Linked DNA regions of Homo sapiens. The protein of the gene in region 1 interacts with the protein of each later gene in a pairwise test. Each region holds a gene or a part of one and is shown in the gene's direction. Other genes may lie near its edges. The genes, in order: MNDA and PRMT7.

What was found.
Region 2: the proteins of MNDA (region 1) and PRMT7 interact in a two-hybrid assay, tested with the Homo sapiens proteins (one large-scale study listed by BioGRID and IntAct).

Annotation. Positions count from the first base shown.
Region 1 is NC_000001.11:158,837,722-158,841,542, forward strand, and holds part of MNDA (myeloid cell nuclear differentiation antigen), read left to right. Parts: intron 1-2,593; exon of another isoform or gene 2,594-2,675; intron 2,676-3,821. UniProt on the Homo sapiens protein: May act as a transcriptional activator/repressor in the myeloid lineage. Plays a role in the granulocyte/monocyte cell-specific response to interferon. Stimulates the DNA binding of the transcriptional repressor protein YY1.
Region 2 is NC_000016.10:68,338,489-68,342,309, forward strand, and holds part of PRMT7 (protein arginine N-methyltransferase 7), read left to right. Parts: intron 1-833; coding exon 834-1,075; intron 1,076-1,299; coding exon 1,300-1,480; intron 1,481-3,821. UniProt on the Homo sapiens protein: Arginine methyltransferase that can both catalyze the formation of omega-N monomethylarginine (MMA) and symmetrical dimethylarginine (sDMA), with a preference for the formation of MMA.

The DNA of each region.
Region 1 (3,821 bases):
AATTATTGATAAGGAAGAACTTAGAACTTATTGTTGCCATTTTTTATTTGTTTTCTGTATGTCTTAATAGGTTTTTGTCTCTTAGTGACTTCTTTTTGTTGATTTTTTTCTGTAGTGAAACATTTTTATGTTCTTCTATTCCTTTGTGTACATCCTACAGATATCTCTGTGGTCATCATCAGGTTGCATATGATATTCTAAAGTTATAGCAATCTATTTTTAACTAATAACAACTTAACTTCAATCATATGCAAAATGTTTACTCCTTTACAGCTCCCCAACACATATTTTATGTTAATATTACAAATTGCATTTATATAATATGTACCAATTAACATTGATTTATAAATTGTTTTGCTTTCACATTTTAAATCCTATAAAATAATAAAAAATGATTACAAATCAAAATAGCAAAAGTCATGTTTCATGTTTATGTATATACTTACCTTTCATCAAGAACTTACATTTTTGTATGAGTTTGAGTTACCATCTAGCATCCTTGTGTTTCAGCTTGAAGAAATCTCTTTAGTATTTCTTTTAAGGTAGATATAGTGGTAATGAAATCCTTCAGCTTATGTTTATCTGGGAATGTCTTAATTTCTCTCATTTATGAATAGCAGGTTTCCCAGATATAGCATTTTTGATGGACAGACTTTTCTTTAAACACTTGAAATGTATTGTCCCACTACCTTCTGGTCTACAAAGTATTTGCTGAAAAATGTGCTCATAATCCTATTGAAGATTTCTTGGATATAATGAGTTGCCTTTTTCTTGCGCTTTTTAAATGATTTTCTTTTCGTCTTTGAGTGTTGGTAATTTGATAATAATGTGTCATAGTGTAAGTTTCTTTGAGTTTATCATAGTTGCAGCTTGTTTGGTTTCTTATATCTGTACATTTAGTCTTTTCTCAAATTTGGAAAGTTTTCAGTCCTTATTTACTCAATAATTTTGTTATTCCTTTCTCTTTTCCATCACCTTTTCAGACTTACATAATGCATATATTGTCCCACTTGATGAACTTTATAAGTTCTGTTCACTTTCCTTTATATCTTTTAAAAAAGTTTGTTCTTCAGCCTTGATAATTACACATGACCTGTCTAAAAGCTAACTGATTCTTCTGCCTATTGGTGTGGGCTGAGGAACCCCTCTAGTGGATTTTACAATGCAGTCAATGTGTTTTTCAGCTTCAGAATTTATGGAATTTTTTCTGGTAATTTCTATTTTTTGTCTATTCTCATTTTTTATTAATCATTTTCCTGATTTTATTTAGTTGTCTCTACCTATTTTCCTTTAACTCATTTATCATATTTAAGAGTGCTGTTTTAGTCTTTGACAAGAAAGTCTGAGGGCTGTGTTTCTTTAGAGAAAGTTTGTGGAGATTCATTTTTTTCTTTAAAATTGACCATGTTTACCTGTTTCTTTGTATACCTTTTGTTGAAAACTGGACATTTGTAAAAACAGCCCCCTCTCAACCATTGTTAACTGGCACCATATTCAGGGGAGGACTTTCACTCTTCAGCTAAGTATGAAATATAAACGTTCTCTGAGGCCTATATGGACGTGTGTCTTGCCTGGGCTTATGTGTGTGCATTTTTTGTAATTCTCTCATATACACACTGCTTTTAATCTGTAATTTCCCTAAGAGCCACACCTGCCTCTTTTCATGACCTTAGATGTTCTACTGTATTCCTCTATCCATAATCTCTTGCCTTCTGGCACCCAGGGAGTAGCAGATCCCATGAAGCTCTCACAAGCTGGAGCACCCACCACTACTTTTTGCAGCCTCAAATCTGACATTTAAACTATGCCACCATTTCCATCAATGCTCCAAGTCATGTGAAGCAGTTACTAGTCCCTCAAGGAACCTACAGAGAAGCTATAATGTTGCAAAGCAGTTCCACACTTTTCCTTCTATTCCAAAGGAAGAATGAGGAATTAGGAAGTTTCCTCCTGATCACGTCACACCATTCAAGGGAGAAAGTTAAACAGGGACAAAGAAAAACACCTAGAAGTTTTCCACTATTTTGAATGTGGCTTAATCTTGGTTTGGAATTTCCTTTGTTGCAACCAATTCTTAACAGCTGAAAACATTAGTTTGGTTCATAAATTGTTCTTTATTTGGTGTTTCCATGGTATAATGAAAGTCTGGAACGTCCTTGTCTGCAATCTTGCTAATGTCACTCTCAGTGAGAAGAGAACAATTTTTTAAACCATAACATTCAAATAACATTTTGACCAGATACAAAATTTTAGTTTGAAAAATATTTTTGCTTGAAAACTGATTCACAGCACTTCACCTGAAACCCCTGGGACAACTCTGATTTTTAATTCATTTTTTTAGGGGGGGATTTTAGAAAGACTACTTAATGCATACATTGTATGTAGGCACTGCAAGTGTCCCAGTAGAGGTAATATCAACATCCTAATATCAAATGCATTAAGAGTTCTTCAACAAATCATGCCACTATTCACATTAAAGTGAGATGAATAAGGAAGATTAAAAATAGCCACTGTATTAGTTCCTTCTCACGCTGCTATGAAGAAATACCTGAGACTGGGTAATTTATAAAGAAAAGAGATTTGATTTACTCACAGTTCCGCACGGCTGGGGAGTCCTAAGGAAACTTACAATCATGATGGAAGGCACCTCTTCACAGGGTGGCAGGAGAGAGAATGAGTGCTAGCAGGGGAAATGCCTGATGTTTATAAAACCATAGATCTCATGAGAACTTGCTCACTATCACAAGATGATATTTCAAGATGAGATTTGGGTTGGGACATAGCCAAACCATATCAGCCACGTATTACTTCACATTATATCTCTAATTTGCAAGATGATTTTGCTACCACACTTCCCTGCTAACTCTCATCCCTTCCCAAGCCCCCAAACCGCACAAATCTTTTCATCCTTCAGTATCTTCTTAGGTTTTAAAATTGCAGACATATAATTATGGATCAGTACTATGTAAAAATTACTTTCTTAACCTGCTGCAGACTGTTCAATCAGATTATTTAATCTTTGTAGGTGTTCTACTCAGTATTTCTGGAAGATTTTATCATTTTGCTTTTAATATTCTTTGGCTTTACTATATGTGCCCATGTGTGAAATTTCTCTTTATCTGATAGGTTTAAACACAGGAACACTCATGTTCTCCCAAAAGAGAACAATTTACAGCCCTAAGAATTTGGACACTCTAATTATATAAAAGTTGCACAAACACATGGTCACCAACCTAAAGGAATACCTATAAATTTAAACAGAAAATTGGAATATACGTTAGGAACTGAATGCCCTTAGGTAGTACACAAGGGGTTAAAGAGGCACACATAAGTGAGAGTGGGACCACAACAGCTCGCAGAAGATAAAGCCTCAATTAAGCATTAAAAACTCTAAGGAAGTATTCAGAGGAAGAAAACTGGGAATGCTTTCCCAGATAGCAGGAAGGGAATTAGCAGTAAGAAGACCTGAAAAAGAAAGACATATTGTGTATTTCTAGAGCATAAGGTATAAGAAATTCAAAAGTAACAGACACACACAAAAAGAAAGATACAGTTTATGCAAGGCCTTTCAAGTCATGCTGAGTAGAAATCTATACTAATAAAAATCAAAACTCATTGAAGGATTTCAGGAAAAATAGAGTCATGTCTTTATCCATAAAGAAACCTACTTGGTTGTCTGACAGAAACCTTTTAGTAAAAGTAAGACTAGTTGGAGGTAAATAATTGACTGTAAAAAACAAATGTGCAAAAAATAAATGCTGCAATTCCACACTAGAGAGCAGATAGGAGGATGGCAAAATGACAATTTTATAGATGCATAG
Region 2 (3,821 bases), on another chromosome or scaffold:
AGAGGGCATGGTTGAGGTCACTGTGGAGAGTGTGGAGGGAGACAGTCCGGACCAGGGAGTCCCCTTGTGAGGTGGGGCGGAGGAAGCACAGCCTGGGGAAGGCAGCGGGAGTGAGTCCAGTTAGAGCAGCATTTGTCTACCAGAGCAAGGTTGGGAGATGCTTCGCAGGGAGGCCAGTTATTCTGCTAGCCTTTTACCATGCCCAGAGCAACCCCTACAGCAGAGAATCATTTGGCCCAAGAGGCCAGTGGTGTCCTGGTGGTGAAAGCCATGTGGGTAGCAGCTGTGAGTGTGCTCTTGCCGGGTCCCTATTGCCTGGTGCATGGAGGACGTGGAGTGGATGCAAGAGGTAGGAGGAGAGCCGGACAAGGAGCCGGAGCCGGAGCCACAGCCCTAGGGGCTGAGTGTGCAGCAGTGCCCAGCGGCGCTAGAGGGCTGGGCAGCTGAGGGGGCACCGTGGTCCACAGGGCTTTGCCACAAGGAGGCTCTTGTTTTGGTGCTGGGCAGGAGCGGCACTGAAGGGACACTGAGCCCAGAGCCAGGATCACCACCCAGCAGCAGGACGTGAAGCATTTAAGAGTGCCAGGTAGCCAGGAACTTAGCTGACAGAAGTCATTTTAGGCACAGTGTGTGTTCTTTTTGAAATGTAGTACCCTTTTTTTCCCTTTTCCAAGGGCATAGGGCTGAAAACAGTTCACTATTCTAATAGTATAAGGTGTTGGGCATTACTGAACCAACCTAATGTTAAGGAATAAACCTCTTTTGATCAATGGGAATTACTGTGGGTCTAAGCATCTGATTTTTGTTTGGTTTTGTTTTTAATATAAACTTAGGAAAATTGTGAGGCCGTGCCCCACAGAGCCACCGTCTATGCACAGCTGGTGGAGTCCGGGAGGATGTGGTCGTGGAACAAGCTATTTCCCATCCACGTGCAGACCAGCCTCGGAGAGCAGGTCATCGTCCCTCCCGTTGACGTGGAGAGCTGCCCTGGCGCACCCTCTGTCTGTGACATTCAGCTGAACCAGGTGTCACCAGCCGACTTTACAGTCCTCAGCGATGTGCTGCCCATGTTCAGGTACCAAGGAGCCACCATAGGTGATGGCGCTTTGAGACATTTGATGGAAGTTGGGTATTAGGAGGTTCTTTTTGAGTGGGAAGGAAATCTAGCTGCTGTCACCTGCCTCGAAGGCAAGAGTCCTTTGCAGCCAAATGTCATTGCCAGTGAAGTCACTGTAAAAGCTTAAAAAATGGAGTGTGTGAGGTTAAACTCTGCTTACATTCTTGAATATTATTCCTCAGCATAGACTTCAGCAAGCAAGTCAGTAGCTCAGCAGCCTGCCATAGCAGGCGGTTTGAACCTCTGACATCTGGCCGAGCTCAGGTGGTTCTCTCGTGGTGGGACATTGAAATGGACCCTGAGGGGAAGATCAAGTGCACCATGGCCCCCTTCTGGGCACACTCAGACCCAGAGGAGATGCAGGTAAGAGGCAGGAGCCTAGCATGTGCCCTGTCAGGAAACTTGTCCACTGCTGTTCATGGGAAAGTAACAGTTGAGCCTTGGACCCAGGAGAATTTAGAGACAGGAGGGCTGTGTCAGAATCAAAGACAAAAGTTTTTAAAAAGCAAGCAAAGGCTAGCTGTAGTAACGTAGCCTTCCCAGGGTGAGCTCATGGTGAGCACTCATGGACACAGTGAGGAACAGAGAAGTTGGCTTTCCTCTCCCGCCTCATCATGATGCAGCCACCCTTAGATACCACCCCTCATCCCCTGAGTAATCCCAGGGGGCTCCCATCAGCTTGGAATAGAGAACTACAGCCTCACCTTCTGTGGCCTCAAAATCTCCTTTCTCCACCCCGATAGAAAGTAGGCAGAGGACATGAAACACAGAAAAGGAAATACAGATGATGGGGATAGTTGCCCACTGTCCCTCATAATAAGAGAAATGCAGTTTTAGCTGCTCACAGCACCTATGCTCCCAGCCTCTCAGGAGACTGAGGCAGGAGGGTTGCTTGAACCCAGGAAGTTGAGGCTGCAGTGAGTCGGGACTGCATTACTGCACTCCCGCCTGGGCAATAAGATGAGAACCTGTCTCTAAAAAAAAAAAAAAAGAGAAATGCAACTTTAAACTGCAATGAGATCTCATTTTCACCTACTAGTGAATAAAGTTTAAACAGTTTGCAAGCACACTGTTGGGGAAGCTCAGGGAAAAAGCAGGAAAGCGAGTCATCAGAACGTTTCAGGTAGAAAGCAATGCTGCTTTCAGACATGGGGCTGTGGCTGGATTTGCGTCTGTGCAGAATAGATGTGTGCAGCCCTGGTTTAGTAGAAAAAGGCCAACCTAAAGGCCACTAGCAGGGATCAAGTCCATTATCCTTTCAGTGGGTGAGGTAGCTCTCTGTGCACTGATGTGGGACAAGCTTCAGGGTGGATTATTACCTGACACAAAAATAAAGGTGCAGAATGGTGTGTTGTGTGGCAGCACTGGTGTTAGTAAAAATAGGAATATATGTGTTTGTGAGTGGATAGTCATGTGTGGTGTACATATAAGGAGGTCTTTGGAAGAATTCCCAGAAATTCGTAAAACTGACTGCATCTGGGAATGGGGACTGGAGGTTAGGGGTGGAAAGGAAACATATTTTTTACTATGCGTCCTTGTATACCTTTTGAATTTTCTCTCATGTGCTTGTGTTATTTACACCCCCATCCACCCTCTCTCACTCTCACACTCAAAGGAAAAGAAAGTGGGAAAGGTGTGTCGGAATTGCCTGATGGGTTCTTCCCACCCACTGTTCAGACAAAACCAATTCGCTGACACCATGGCATTGCAATAAAGACTTTAATTGACACGAAGCCAGCCACACCACGTGGGGGAGAGATTTGTTACTCAAATCAGTCTCCCTGAAAATTCACAGGCTACGGTTTTTTGTTTGTTTGTTTTGAGATGGAGTTTCGTTCTTGTTGGTCAGGCTGGAGTGCAATGGCGCGATCTCAGCTCACTGCAACCTCTACCTCCCGGGTTCAAGCAATTCTCCTGCCTCAGCCCCCTGAGTAGCTGGGATTACGGGCATGCGCCACCATGCCTGGCTAATTTTGTATTTTTAGTAGAGATGGGGTTTCTCCACGTTGGCCAGGCTGGTCTCAAATTCCCGACCTCAGGTGACCTGCCCCACCGGCCTCCCAAAGTGCTGGGATTACAGGCGTGAGCCGCTATGCCCGGCTCAGGCTAGGGTTTTTCAAGGATAGTTTGGCAGGCGAGGGAGTCCACTTCTGGGTGGAGTCATCAGACAGAAACGTAAAAACCCGAAAAGACATTTCAAAGGGTCAATCTTAGTTTCTGCAAGGTGGTGTTATCTGCAGGAGGAATCAGGGAAGGTTGCAGATCTTGTGACCTAACAATGGCTTCACCTTAGCAGAATTCAGCCTCCTCTCATCCTCCTAACCTGATGATCTTTCATTCAGTTTAAGTTTAATTTTGGGGAAGGACGGTTATCATTTAAAGTATTAACCAGCTGGGTGTGGTGGCTCACGCCTGTAATCCCAACACTTTGGGAGCCCCAGGTGGGTGGATCATTTGAGGTCAGGAGTTCGAGACCAGCCTGGCCAACATGGAGAAACCCCACTTCTACTAAAAATACAAAAATTACCCGGATGTGGTGGTGCGTGCCTGTAATTCCAGCTACTCGGGAGGCTGAGGCAGGAGAATTGCTTGAACCCAGGAGGTGGAAATTGAAGTGAGCTGAGGTCACACCACTGCACTCAAACCTGGGTGGCAGAGCGAGACTCTGTCTCAAAAAATAATAAGAACAAAAAATAAACTGTTA